Linked DNA regions of Homo sapiens. The protein of the gene in region 1 purifies or fractionates together with the protein of each later gene. This does not show direct contact. Each region holds a gene or a part of one and is shown in the gene's direction. Other genes may lie near its edges.

Region 1 (3,828 bases):
GGATTTTGAGCTTACTAGTCTCTTCCCTACCCCTACCCAGGAAAAGTAAATGAAGTCTTCAGTGAATGGCTCTATCTTTTGCTCTTTCCTCTTTTCGGCCAAATCCCAAACGATAAAGGGAATTTGCCACGTGGGTGAGAAATGAGACTGAAGTGATTATCAACTGTGCTGGTTCGCAGTTAGAATTGTGCATGGCAGTAACCTGGGGAAATTAAAAGCAAATCTCTAAGTCTAGGATATCCCCTGAAGATTTTAATATGGTAAATCTAATATTTACTATTAAATATTACTGGGCATGTATGTTTTAAAATATTTCCTTGAAGCTGGGCATGGTGGTGCCTCTAGCCAGAGCAACAGATTAAGACACTGCCTCTAACAGCAACAACACAACAACAACAACAACAATAAAACATTTCTTGGGACACTGATACGCTGCTGGTTAAGAACCACTGAATAGATAAGTGTAATATAAATTCCCATATCTCAAACACACAAAAAATCTCTAGAAGAGCTGGAGATAGGTGCTGCTTCCTTTAAATTTCTCCTTTCCAATAATATTGGCCTGACTTTTACCTGTCTCTACCTCTGTGGTTGGGAAGTGGAAAGGACTATTATTTGCAGTATCTATCAGCATAAGAATAACACCTTTTCTTTGCCACCATCACTTATTCACTGCCATTCATAGGGTCATTAGAAATTTGCTATTGTGGACTCTTTTAATAAGTAGAGACTGACTCTTTCAGGACTCTGAGTCTCTTTGTTATCATTCTGGTGATTAGGTCAATACATCATTATTAAAAGCGGGGTTCTCTCAATTACAATAGCAAAAAATTCTAAACCTTTTTTTAAAGCTGAAGCTCTATTATGGACTGCCTCAGTATGTCAGTTAAGTACATAGAACTGTGGCATAATCAGGATAGCAGTTTTAAACACTGAAAACCATGAAGTTAGTAAGAATACAAAGAATACATATAGGTCATTATTAGAGCTTTAATTGATAAGCCATTGTATTTTTATTTCTGATTTATATTTTCCCTAAAATAAAAAAATTAGGTTACAATATAGAAACTAGAATTATAATTTAATATTATTTTAATAATTTAGTTGCAGCAGTCTTATGAACTAATTATCCATTTGGTGAACAATCTGGGAAAATTAAACATAAATTATAAATGAATGAATGTTGTAAAAGTGCTCAAAGTGGGTATTATGACTCTTAGTAACAATTTTTATTGTATTCTTGGGCCTATTTTGGAAAAAAAAATCTGAAACTAAAGAAAGGAAGTATTTTACATGAAAATACTTGTGTTACATACAATTGCTTGGAGACATATCCATAGCAAATATAAAAATACAAGGTATATAGTCCAAATGTGTCCCATACATGTGTTTAGTTTGTGTCTACAAATTGTCTCAACATGGAAGGTTTAGGAGACTCGTGCACAGATCTGGATTCCAGGCTTCTCTTCAAGAATCCAATCTGGTGTCCCTTGAGCCTATCTCAGGTTTTGGATGCTGTGCAGAGGTTGCCCCTTTCTATGAGGCATGTGGTCTCCATTTTGCTACTGTGCCTACCTAGGTACTTCACTTCCTCAGGTCATCTCCCTTGCCTCTGTAGGGATGACTTTACAAGCCCTGTTTTATAATATATTTTAGTAAATATTTCAAGGTTTTTAAGACATTTTATATTTATTTAAATGTAGAGTCTATATTTTATATAAATCCTTTGGTAATCGGGTTGAACTTTTGAATTTAGATGGTGGTGTTTTATAAACTATTTTTCTTTATACATACCATAAATAATCATCTTCCCATTAGAATGCATGTAAGCTTTTTAAGGTGAATCATGGTATGGTTGCATAGGTTATGCATATTGCAGACAACATTATATTTTTCTCTTCAGCATTGCCTCCTAAAAATGCAAGTAATTGGCCGAGCGCAGTGGCTCACGCCTGTAATCCTAGCACTTTGGGAGGCAGAGGCAGGTAGATCACGAGGTCAGAAGATTGAGACCATCCTGGCTAACACGGTGAAACCCCCTCTCTACTACAAATACAAAAAATTAGCTGGGTGTGGTGGCACACTCCTGTAGTCCCAGCTACTCGGGAGGCTGAGGCAGGAGAATTTCTCGTGCTTGAATCCGGGAGGCGGAGGTTGCAGTGAGCCAAGATGGCACCACTGCACTCCAGCCTGGGCGACAGAGCGAGACTCCATCCCAAATAAATAAATAAATAAAAGATGCAAATAATTTAGTGGCTTTCATTATGCTATAAATAATTCATATAGGTCATTATTAGAGCTTTAATTGATAAGCCATTGTATTTTTATTTCTGATTGATATTTTACCTAAAATAAAAAAAGTAAGAATTAATTGGAAACTAGAATACAAATAGATTTTTAAAGGAGTTATGTACCAGGGTCCTAAGATTATAATTACATAAATATTTGCATCAGGGTCCTAAGATTGTAATTGAGAATAACATTTCATACAGAGCTTTCTGACAGCTAAGATAAAAATATTACTAGAGAAAACCCATGGACTATTTAATAATAAGCAGTGAAAGTTCACTCGAAGCCTATCTCTATTAATTCAGAGCCCGGCTCTCCGAATTAAAAAGAGATAGGCTTCAAATGAACTGTCAATCGTGTCAGAATCTCAGATGACAATGTCAGGTGCTCAGGTGCTCAGGAGCTCCTGACATTGTCACCTGAGATTCTTACACCATCGATAGAAGAGAATGAGGCAAGTGTGTATCACCCAGAGGAAACCTCTACCTTTACTGGTAAGCTCTCACAACTGTATCCCTGAAACTCTCATTTCTCAAATGTTAACATTCTCCAAAATAAGTATTTACAAATAGGGATTAGGTGAAGTTCAAAAGATTTCTCAAATACTAGACACATAATGCAGTTTTGTAACATTTTTCAAACATGGGTGATCATGGAGTCTCTCTTTTGGGGTATAATGTTCAAATTCTGGTAAAGTAAATATCCTTTGGAATATATTAATAGTTTAAGAAACACCGCTCTATAGATAATAATTTAGATCATTAATAAAAATACCTGAAACATTTATTACTGTGTCTTAGAGTTTGAGGACATAGAGAAAAAAATACAGCTGCTGCCCTCAAGAAGCTCTTGGTTCAGGTGGGAAACAATTAAATCCTTGAAACATGCCATGCTAAATGCTGGGACAGAAGCAAAGATTCTTGGAACTGGGAAATGTTTGAAGTGAGTTTTGGAGATGACCAGAGTTCTTGTGGTGAGGCAGAGGAGGTTGTTTCCAGGGGAAGGAGCAGAACATAGAAAAGCACCGAGGAGGGAAAAGAAAGGGACTACCTCTTATGACCTTTCAATTGTATATATTGAAGCTCACAGGATCTTACTTACATAAGGTTTTCAGTTCAGTTGATAAATATGTAATTTTGTGATTATAAATTGTTGCTGTTATTTTACAGTGTGAATATCAGCCACTGTTATTTGCTGTGAGTCGAAGAAAAGTGAAAATGGTGGAATTTTTATTAAAGAAAAAAGCAAATGTAAATGCCATTGATTATCTTGGCAGGTACAGACCTTAGTTCTTATTGTGTCGTTTTTAAACCTGAGTGTCATTTTAGTGTGGTAGCAGTCCCTCAAGTCACAAATATTACATTAATAAGAAGACTAACTTGTAATTATTGGGATATAGTGAGAAATAACACAGATCATCACTTAGGTAGGAAAACAATTATTTGGACTGAGTAACATAAAGAACAGTGTATAGCAGGATTCGTCTCTCTCTATAGACATTATACACATAAAAGGCTTCTATATATAGAAAGCTCTGTA
Region 2 (3,828 bases), on another chromosome or scaffold:
AAGTTCTTTCTGTACTTTGGAAAATTATTTTTCTTGTAAGTATGCCATTGACAAATTCACTAACAGATACAAATTAAAATTGGTGTTGTTAAGGCAGCCTATGAACATCTCTGCAGTCTATAACAGATCTTACTTTCAAACGCTTTGTTGAGTGTCAGTGCTCCAGAAAGTGGATTTTATCCACTCTCGGGTAACTTGGAGTATAGAGGTTGCCACATGAAAGTCGTTACTGGTGGTTCGACTAATAGATTTTCTTTTGGGAGTGGGTCTTTCTTTTGGGAGTGGCGTTGCTACATCCCATCTTGCATAAGAATATGTTTGGTAGGATGTTCATTTAATCATTTTAAGGAAAGGGAATTTTTATTGTTTCTTCTCTCTCTCTTTTTTTTTTTTTTTTTTTTTTTTTGTTTGTTTGAGATGGAGTTTCACTCTTGTTGCCCAGGCTGGAGTGCAGTGGCGCGATCTCGGCTGACTGCAACCTCCACCTCCTGGGTTCAAGCGATTCTCCTGCCTCAGCCTCCCGTGTAGCTGGGATTACAGGCATGTGCCACCATGCCCGGCTAATTTTGTATTTTTGGTAGAGACAGGGTTTCTCCATGTTGGTCAAGCTGGTCTTGAACTCCCGACCTCAGGTGATCCACCCGCCTCTGCCTCCCAAAGTGCTGGGATTACAGGTGTGAGGCACCATGTCAGCATAGTTTCTTCTCAATAGCCCTTCAATGTAAAGTGCAACATCTGGAAGGAGTCTCTGAAGGTACAAATGCTGCTTTTATTTTTTCCCCCATTCTATAGCCTGTGAATTGGTGCTACATTGGCATTTCCTCACAATTATTCTAATTGGTGGGTGTGTAATCTTCTGGTCATTAAGCAGGAGCTGTAAAAAATCATATTTAGGATCTTTGTGATATACAGCCTCCAACTTCTTGACTACTTAAACTGATTTAGAACAGCCTTTATTAGGAAGACATTCAAGGTCCTGGGTGTGATTGATTTTGATATGATTTTGGAAGCTTTGAAATGGTTAGAATTCTAGGACCGGAGGGCAACTTAAAAGTCTAGAGAAGATTTCATTTTTCAAATCATACGGTCAGGTTGGTGGTGATAGAGTCAAAAACTGAAGTAGTCTATAATTTATTTAAAACTTTTTTTTTTTTTTTGAGACAGAGTCTCGCTCTGTCACCCAGGCTGGAGTGCAGTGGCGCAATCTCGGCTCACTGCAAGCTCCACCTCCTGGGTTCACACCATTCTCCTGCCTCAGCCTCCCTAGTAGCTGGGATTACAGGTGCCCGTCACCACGCCCGGCTAATTTTTTTTGTAGAGATGGGGTTTCATGGTGTTAGCCAGGATGGTCTCGATCTCCTGACCTGGTGATCCGCCCGCCTCGGCCTCCCAAAGTGCTGGGATTACAGGCATGAGCCACCGCGCCCAGCCTAATTTATTTAAAACGTTGACTACTTTTCCATATCAAATTATTGAAAGAGTTTTAAAAAATATTTTTATTAGTTTCTCTGACAATTAGATGTGGATTCGAGTAAAAGAGGGAAGAGAACAAGTGCTCCTTTAGATTCTTTTATTCTCTTCCTGTGCCAGAATTGAAAGGGTTTTTTTTTTTTTTTTGAGAGAGAAGCTTTTTTAGAATATTTAGAATGAAATTGAGTTTGCCTGCAGCAGCAATAGCGTTTACAAGAGTGATATTATACTAAGTATTCTATACTTTTTCTGTATTAGGTGAAATTTCTATATAGTCTGAAGAAATCAGGAGCAGAATACTACCCACCTTCCCACCCTCTGGCCCCTGGAGAAATTTCTGGATAAGACAGTGTTATGATGGGAATCTGTCTGTTGAGGCAGACAACAGACTGGTGATCCCCTAATGCTGCCAGCATTCTGGAATAAATGAGGCATTATCACCTGTGCCTTAAAAAGTATGACATCTTACAGTGGTTCTTAACCAAGGGAGTGTTTTTGGATGTCACACTGACTTGACAGGTAGGAGTGTAGAAAAACTGCCAGCATTTAGTGGGTAGAGGTCAAGGATTTTATATTTGTGCCTGCACGAGGAAGAACTGCCCTGTGAAAAATGCTATTGAGAAATATTTATGTGAACAGCATATACCAACAGGACTAAACATTCAATAGGAGGATTCCTTAGAATCTTAAATGTAGAAGATAGATGTGACCAGTATTGATAATGTCACACACCATGCTAGTCAGTTTACCTAGTGCCAAAAAGGGCTTTTGCTGTTTTTGCATTATTAAATGTAATATAGTGGACATAACCATTAAACATTTGAATTAGTTACATGGTGGTAGCAAGAAATGGAGAACTCATGTTACTAAAAATTTTTAAGAAAAAATGTGTAATCTGTATAATGATTCGAAGAGTACCTGTTGAATGTCCATTTTTGATAATTGTGTGCAAGAAGAAAGTTTTTGAACCCCAGGATAGAATAAGCATGATGAATCTAGGATTAGGCCTAGGTTCAAATCTACCATTCATAAACTTTCAGCTAGTCACCTCATGCTAGTTACTTAACTTCCTCTTTAAAATATTTTTGTAGTATATTATATAGGATAATTGTATAAGTAACCGCTTATGGTAAAAATTTAAACTTAATGAGAGTATAAATTAAAAAGTAAAAACACAGTTTCCCTCTACAATTCCCCAAAAAAGTTATTTATGTCCCAGTGATAACCAACGTTAAATGTTTTTTTCTTTAGTATCCTTCCAGAATGTATTTATAAATTGTACTTGTTTGTATGTATCCTTTAAATACATACACAGAAGACATACGATATATACTATTTCCTCCTACTTGATTTTTATTATTTAATGTATCTCAGGTACATTTTTGCATCAATATAAAAATCTACCTCATGCCCTCATTGTGTTCATCTTAAATAGTCTATTTAACTAGTCCCTTCTTGATAGATATTAGGGTTTTTTCTTTGGTTCTTTTATGTATGTGTGTGTGTGTGTGTGTGTGTGTGTGTGTGTGTGTGTTTTTAAGAGACAAGGTCTTGCTCTGGTGCTCTGTCACCCAGGCTGGAGTACAGTGGCGCTGTCACAGATTATTACGGCCTTGAACTCCTGGGATTGAGTGATCCTCTGTCTCAGCCTCCCTATCAGCCTCCCTAGTAGCTGGGAGTACAGGCATGTGCCATCTCACCTAATTTGTTCTTTCAAATTTTTTGTGGAGATTTGGTCTCGTTATGTTGCCCAGGCTGGTACTGAACTAATGGCCTCAGCAGTCTTCCCATCAGTCTTCCCAGGTGCTGGGATTACAGGTGAGCCACTGCACCTGGCCTTTAAAAGAAAAAAAAAAAATGGAATATGCTGCAGTGAATAACCTTATAGCTTTAGGGTTTTTGTTGCTTGGGTTTTGTTGTTTTTTTTCTGTTACAGATAATGAATATGTTTACATCTTTTTGTGTGTGTGCTAATCTATAAGATAAACTCCTAGAGAAGAATTGCCAAATTGAATTGGCAGACTCATTTTTTATAATATAATTTTTATTTTGAAATAATCTCAAACTTACAGAATAGTTGAAAGTACAGTACAAACATTTTTCTCTAAACCATTTGTGAATAAGTTGCCAACCTGATGGCCATCACTCCTGAGTATTTTAATGTGTATTTCCTACAAGGACATAGTCACAAGACAACCATCAAAATCAGGAAATTAACGCACTGATGCATTACTATAGGTTGAGCATCCCAAATCTGAAATCCTCCGGAATCTCAAACTTTCTGAGTACCAACATGAAATTTCAGATTAGGGGATTTGGGATGCCCAGTTGTAAATATATAATGCAAGTATTTCAAAA

What was found.
Region 2: the proteins of ANKRD36 (region 1) and SEM1 purify together in Homo sapiens (co-immunoprecipitation; one large-scale study listed by IntAct). This does not show direct contact.

What each region holds. Positions count from the first base shown.
Region 1 is NC_000002.12:97,119,429-97,123,256, forward strand, and holds part of ANKRD36 (ankyrin repeat domain-containing protein 36A), read left to right. Parts: intron 1-3,458; coding exon 3,459-3,565; intron 3,566-3,828.
Region 2 is NC_000007.14:96,703,149-96,706,976, reverse strand, and holds part of SEM1 (26S proteasome complex subunit SEM1), read left to right. Parts: intron 1-3,828. UniProt on the Homo sapiens protein: Component of the 26S proteasome, a multiprotein complex involved in the ATP-dependent degradation of ubiquitinated proteins.